2 linked regions of the Homo sapiens genome follow. The protein of the gene in region 1 purifies or fractionates together with the protein of each later gene. This does not show direct contact. Each region holds a gene or a part of one and is shown on either strand. Other genes may lie near its edges.

Evidence for each region. Proteins that work in one complex are often made in the same cells at the same time.
Region 2: the proteins of ADORA2A (region 1) and GRM5 purify together in Homo sapiens (affinity purification with western blotting; one study listed by BioGRID). This does not show direct contact.

The regions. Positions count from the first base shown.
Region 1 is NC_000022.11:24,440,228-24,442,857, reverse strand, and holds the end of ADORA2A (adenosine receptor A2a), read right to left. Parts: intron 2,276-2,630; coding exon 1,369-2,275; 3' UTR 501-1,368; downstream 1-500. UniProt on the Homo sapiens protein: Receptor for adenosine. The activity of this receptor is mediated by G proteins which activate adenylyl cyclase.
Region 2 is NC_000011.10:89,045,483-89,048,982, forward strand, and holds part of GRM5 (metabotropic glutamate receptor 5 isoform a precursor), read right to left. Parts: intron 2,591-3,500; 5' UTR 2,391-2,590; coding exon 1,730-2,390; intron 1-1,729. UniProt on the Homo sapiens protein: G-protein coupled receptor for glutamate. Ligand binding causes a conformation change that triggers signaling via guanine nucleotide-binding proteins (G proteins) and modulates the activity of down-stream effectors.

The DNA.
Region 1 (2,630 bases):
TCACAGAAAGATGGCACCACCTCCTCAGGCAGGAGGCCCCTAAGGCCGGGGTCAGAGCAAAAACACCCCTTCCTTCTGGGTTTCTTTTGTTAAGAACAGAAGGAGGGGGATTCTAGGGGAAGGCCGTGTAGCCCCTGCCCAGATCTGTTTGCGGATACCTCTGTGACCTCTGCTAAAGGGTGCAGCAGGGCAGGTGGCGGGTCACAGTTCTGAGAAGGTAACATACAAAGAGATCTTCCCTTAAAGATGTAGGAAGATAAGGAGGGGGGGAGTTGCTGGGGAAAGCCCCTTCTCCCATAGCCCCTGTGGGCCCTCATAGAAATGCAGGTTGGATTGTGGTGCAGCCAGGCAGCCTGTCCCCTCGAGGACAGGACCCTGGGGAGGGCCCCCGGGGCAGGCAGGGTGTCTGCACATACGCACACACTCTCTCATACACAACACATGCCTGTATGTGTGCACAGGCCTAGCTATGGAGTAGGAAACGAACTCAGACGCCATTCTCATTTGGACAAGCTTAAAACACGATGTGGCTCGTTTTTATTTTATCTCAGAAAAAAACATTCCCTTTAGAAGGAAAGGCAGTTAGACAAGGCCTCTCACTGGGTAGCTCTGCGCTACTCAGCACATGCCAGTGGCCTGCCAGCCCCAACCTCTCCCCTGGGACCTGGGCCCATGCTCTGGCACTGCTCTGTTACAACTCCCTGTCCTTGATCCCAGCTTTGTCACTCCAAGAGATGGCCCTGGGACTGAGAAGTGGATGGCAGCTGTGACAGCAGGAGAGGACTGCCTGAGGCTCCCCGGGCAGAGGCTCTGGTGCCAGGTTAGCAGCAGGACCGACGGCAGACCCAGCAGCCAGAGAGTGAAAGGTAATAAAATAAAAAGGGTTTCCTCACACTTACATTTTTCCTGGAAAAAAGTCAAATGTCACCTCTGGGCCCAGCAGCTCCTGAACCCTAGGAGAGTCTAGGGAGAGTGGTGTGTGGGTGGCAGGAGGCTGTTGGAGCCACTCCCCAGTCTCAGGGCCAGGCCAGTCTGCTGTGCCCAAGCTGCTCTGTGGAGACAAGGTGGTGCTTCCAGATGCTTCTGCAGTGGAGGGCTGGGCCCTGCCCAGCAAAGATGCTGCTGGTGCTGTGGCCCCCACCTGGTGCAAGGCCTCACAGCATGAAACATCTGCTTCCTCAGAACCCAAGCCCTTCTTGCTGGGCCTCATGCTGCTCCAGCCTGGGGCTCCCTTCTCTCAGTCCAAAGTAGGAACCGGCTGCCCTCAGGGTCTCCTGGCACTCTCTCTCTTCTCCCAACGTGACTGGTCAAGCCAACCAGAAAGATAAAGATCTCCTTCCCTTAGGAAGGGGCAAACTCCATGAATCATCAGGACACTCCTGCTCCATCCTGGGCCAGGGGGTCATCTAGGCCAGGGGGCTCTGGGCACACTCCCTTGAGCTCATGGCTAAGGAGCTCCACGTCTGGGAGGCCCGTGTTCCCCTGGGACTCTTGGGCACTCCCTCCACTCACCAGCCCCAGGGCATAGCCATTGGGCCTCCGCTCAGGGTGGGGAGCACTGCCGTTGGCCCACACTCCTGGCGGGTGGCCGTTGAGACGGAGGCTGACCTGCTCTCCGTCACTGCCATGAGCTGCCAAGACCCGGGCACTGGTGCCAGCTGCCTTGAAAGGTTCTTGCTGCCTCAGGACGTGGCTGCGAATGATCTTGCGGAAGGTCTGGCGGAACTCGCGGATACGGTAGGCGTAGATGAAGGGATTCACAACCGAATTGGTGTGGGAGAGGACGATGGCCAGGTACATGAGCCAGAGAGGGGCGTGGCTGCAGTCGGGGCAGAAGAAAGTGAAGCAGTTGATGATGTGTAGGGGCAGCCAGCAGAGGGCAAAGAGCCCCACAATGATGGCCAGTGACTTGGCAGCATGGACCTCCTTCTGCAGTGTGGACCGTGCCCGCTCCCCCGGCAGAGGCTGGCTCTCCATCTGCTTCAGCTGTCGTCGCGCCGCCAGGAAGATCCGCAAATAGACACCCAGCATGAGCAGCAGGGGCACCAGCACACAGGCAAAGAAGTTGAAGTACACCATGTAGTTCATGGGGACCACATCCTCAAAGAGACAGGCCACTTGGCCCTCCCCGCAGCCCTGGGAGTGGTTCTTGCCCTCCTTTGGCTGACCGCAGTTGTTCCAACCTAGCATGGGAGTCAGGCCGATGGCAAACGACAGCACCCAGCAGATGGCAATGATGCCCTTAGCCCTCGTGCCGGTCACCAAGCCATTGTACCTGGGGAGAAGAGACCAGCATCAGAGATCTGAGAAGCCAGGGTTAAGCAGGGCCAAGAGTTCAGAACCCCAGAGCAGCACCCGTTTCCACATTTCCTGACTGTAAGGTCTTGGACCAGTCATTTCCTGCCACCTCGCCCCAGCATCCTCTTCCGTTAAGTGGAAGTAATATGCCTTGCCTTTTTCACAGGCTTCTGGGAGGTAACAGGAGAGCAGGCATCCAAGAAATGGAAACCCATGTACAAATGCCCAGATGGTCATTGAGTAGTTTTCGGAGTAGTCCTGGGACTTAGTTTGGTTGGAGGAAATTAACGCATGATTTTTTGAGGGGGAAAACATGATTTTTCTCTAAAGGG
Region 2 (3,500 bases), on another chromosome or scaffold:
ACCTAAGATGATCTTGGAAATTATAATCATTACCTAGTAGAATGTCTCACTTATTTTAATAGCTAAATGATAATGCATTGTTTGAATACATCATAACTTATTTTATTAGGTTATTAGATTGTTATTGGGGTAAATTTAGGATAAAACAACAGTTTAAACTAGTAAAAGCCAAAGGTCATGACTAAGAGTTTCACTTGGGGCACAATTGAATTAGCACTTGCCACACCGTGACCAAGCACTGATCTTCTGAAGCTAGAAGGGAGTCCCTAATAAAATGCATGATTTATTTGATGCAAACCAAAACATACCTTTACAATTGGCCTTTTCAAGCACATTTTTACTTTCTCACCTAGTCATATTTTCTTATGCTTTTCACTGAAAGCCATCCCTGCTAATTTTCACCAATTGTCAGTATTCTTCTTGTTAAATTTCAATTGTCAAATTCCATTTCCTTCTGTAAGATTCCCACCATGACCCCCATAACCACAGAGGAGGAGGTGATTTTTTTCTCCATCAATTTCCTTTAGAGTCAGATTTGTAACATTGTGTCATTTTGAATTATGATTATGTAAGTATTTGTGCATGCCTCATCTCCTTTGCCAGATTGCAATCCCACTGAAGTCTGTGATATAGAAAACAAAGGGCTATCATTCACAGGACGGTCAGAGAGCCTTGCATATGTATTTGTGCATAATATGTGTTGCATAAATATATTCCTAACCTCTGAAGTGGGGTTAGTAACTTAATTCCACATTTTACCAGACCGAAATATTTGGACTATATTGATATGTTAATGCAGAATTTTAAGAATCTCAACAAATACAATAATTCGATGATTTATAAAAAGTATTTTGTATCTTCTTCAGTATTCTATAGTGTTTAATATACACATTTTTTTTTTTCTAGAAGAAGAGCTGCATAACAAGCGAGTCTGCCCATTTGGGTCACAACCTCTGTAGGTCAAAACAAATTTTTTCCAAACAGCCATGGTCAAGAACTAATGATTTTTAAAACACCATAAAAAACAAAGGGCTACTTATTATTAACTATTATAAAACATCAGTCAGATTTTTCTTTCCTCACTATTCTTGGAGCACAAAGAAGCAATAAATTTTAAAACAAACATGTTGAATTATTTAAAATTATACTTCTCAAATATGTTCTATACAAGGATAAAATTAATTTATTCTTATCTCCATTTTGGATTTGACCATGAATTCTTCTGAAAAAATAGCTGTAAGACCAAACTTTTTGGTAATTCTCTATAACAACACACCTAGGTTAGAACTGGCTACTACCTTCAATCCTATGTGTATTTATGTGTACCTTGCTTTAACTATTAGAAACAATAGGCACCTAGAACAATCGCGAAATGACAAAAATATGAGGTGTTCAATGAAGATATAGAGACTTGAAAACCTCTAGTAATGAATATAAAAAATCATTAGAGTAGAAGTATAATATAGCATCAGTATAGCAGAAGTAAATAATGTAATTCACAATGAAAACAAAATTATATTTCACCAAATATTGGCCACATACACCCTTCTGTAGTTTAAGTCTTTGTCTCTCTAGATATATGCCATCCAGTCTGTTCTTATAGTACTGGTATAACTCGGACAATTCAAAATATCCAAAATAATTAGGAATAGTTTACTCTTCCCAAACCTGAAATTGTAACTGTTGAGTGCATAATAATATATACTCGATGTATGCAAAGGAAACTTACCTTCTGTGTGCACGGCTGATACATAGGTCCAGTTGTACCTCTTCACTATGTCCACCATGGCCCTTGCCTGCTGAGCATCTGAAGGCACAACCCTCATGAAATATTTGAACAGAGTCTTGTCACTCAGATCCATGCTGGTTGCTGAGTAAGCAATCTGAGGTATGTTGAAAAGCTGGAGCAAATTCTGGACCTGAATGGCTACAGAACTGGAGCCAGGCCCAATGACCCCTACTATGGGCTTCTTGGAGCGGAAGGAAGAGGAGGAGCCATCCACACAGCGTACCAAGCCTTCTTCCTCTTCTGAAGAAATGAGGGAATCTCTTATGAACTCAATGCTCTGCTCTAGGGCCACAGCCGAATGCCAGCAGGAGTCCCTTATCTCACAGCCCAGTGTGATGTTGGGCAAGAGTGTGGGGTCTGAATTGATCCTTTCCAGGGTATGCAGCATGGCCTCCACTCTCTGAATGCCATACTGTTCACGGACCGCCCCACACTTCCTCTCATGAACTTTGTCCACAGTAGGCTGGTGATGAACAGAAAAGAGAGCTCCAATAATGATGTCACCCGGCATGTGAGCCACCACCCTCCTCTCACTGGACTGTGCACTCCCACGGACATCTTCTTTCAAAAGTAAGACTGACAGGATCAACAGAAGGACCATTTTAGGAAAGGAGTTCAAGCCAATAAAGATAGCATGGTGGGGAAAATTCAGGAGGGTTCTGATAGCTACGAACAAGCGATGTCCTACGTTGAGTCGCAAATCAAGAAATTAGCCAGCAATTCAGATGTATTTTCTAAAGGACCATTTTGTCCCCATGTACCATTTAGTTAGATGATCCATGTGGTCATGATCTTCTAAACCTGAAAAAAAAAAAATAACATGGGTCTTTAACAAACATAAATGCAACTAGTTTGGGGAAGTTCTATAATCCATGTTAGCAGAGAAAATATTTTGATGATGCAGATAACGAAGAAAAAAAATTCAAAAACGTTTCTGACTTTCCTTTGTCTGCTTCCTTTGTGATTTGATGAAGCAGCTGATGTAGCTTCTTGACCCTGCCTTGCTTAGATTAATAGTCTTTTTTTGTTCACCTGCAATACACAAAACTAAATCTTGAGTGTGGCAGGCAGAACTGTATTGTAATCTCAGGCAGAGATGACAGAGCATCCTAGAAGCAAAACTACGCCATGAACAGAAAACTTCAAGAAGTATGCACCCCAGAATATTAAACATTGGTGATCTCTTGGTAATGAAAGTGTGGATAACTGTTGTTAAATTTTCATTAGGCTTTCTTTTCTTTTGAAATCTTTAGCCTTGAGCATGTAATTAATTATGCAATTACAAAAATAAAATTATCTTTTCAAAAATACCTCACATATTCTCTCTCCAAATACAATGTCAAGCAAGTTGAATAATCTTCTCAGGAATAAATAAGTATTGTCTAATTAATGTGGAAGATATAATAAAAACAAATGAAGAAAGGTGGGTGTTTCATGTTAAATAAACTGTAGAAGAGAAAGGAAAAGGTTGGGGAATTATAGAGTACAACATCCCCCAAATAGGCTGCAAGGAAGAGTCAAATTAGCACCAATTTTTAGAGAAAAGAATATTCACATTTCAATCCCTGTTCTTATATTAAGAAGTATTAGTAAACTGTTTAACCTCTTGGTACCAGAATTTGCTCACCTGAAAAATGGGGATACTATGTGCTAGGCTGTCCCTTATGGGAATCAATACAAGATATCAACGAAATAAACGCTTTACAAGTTA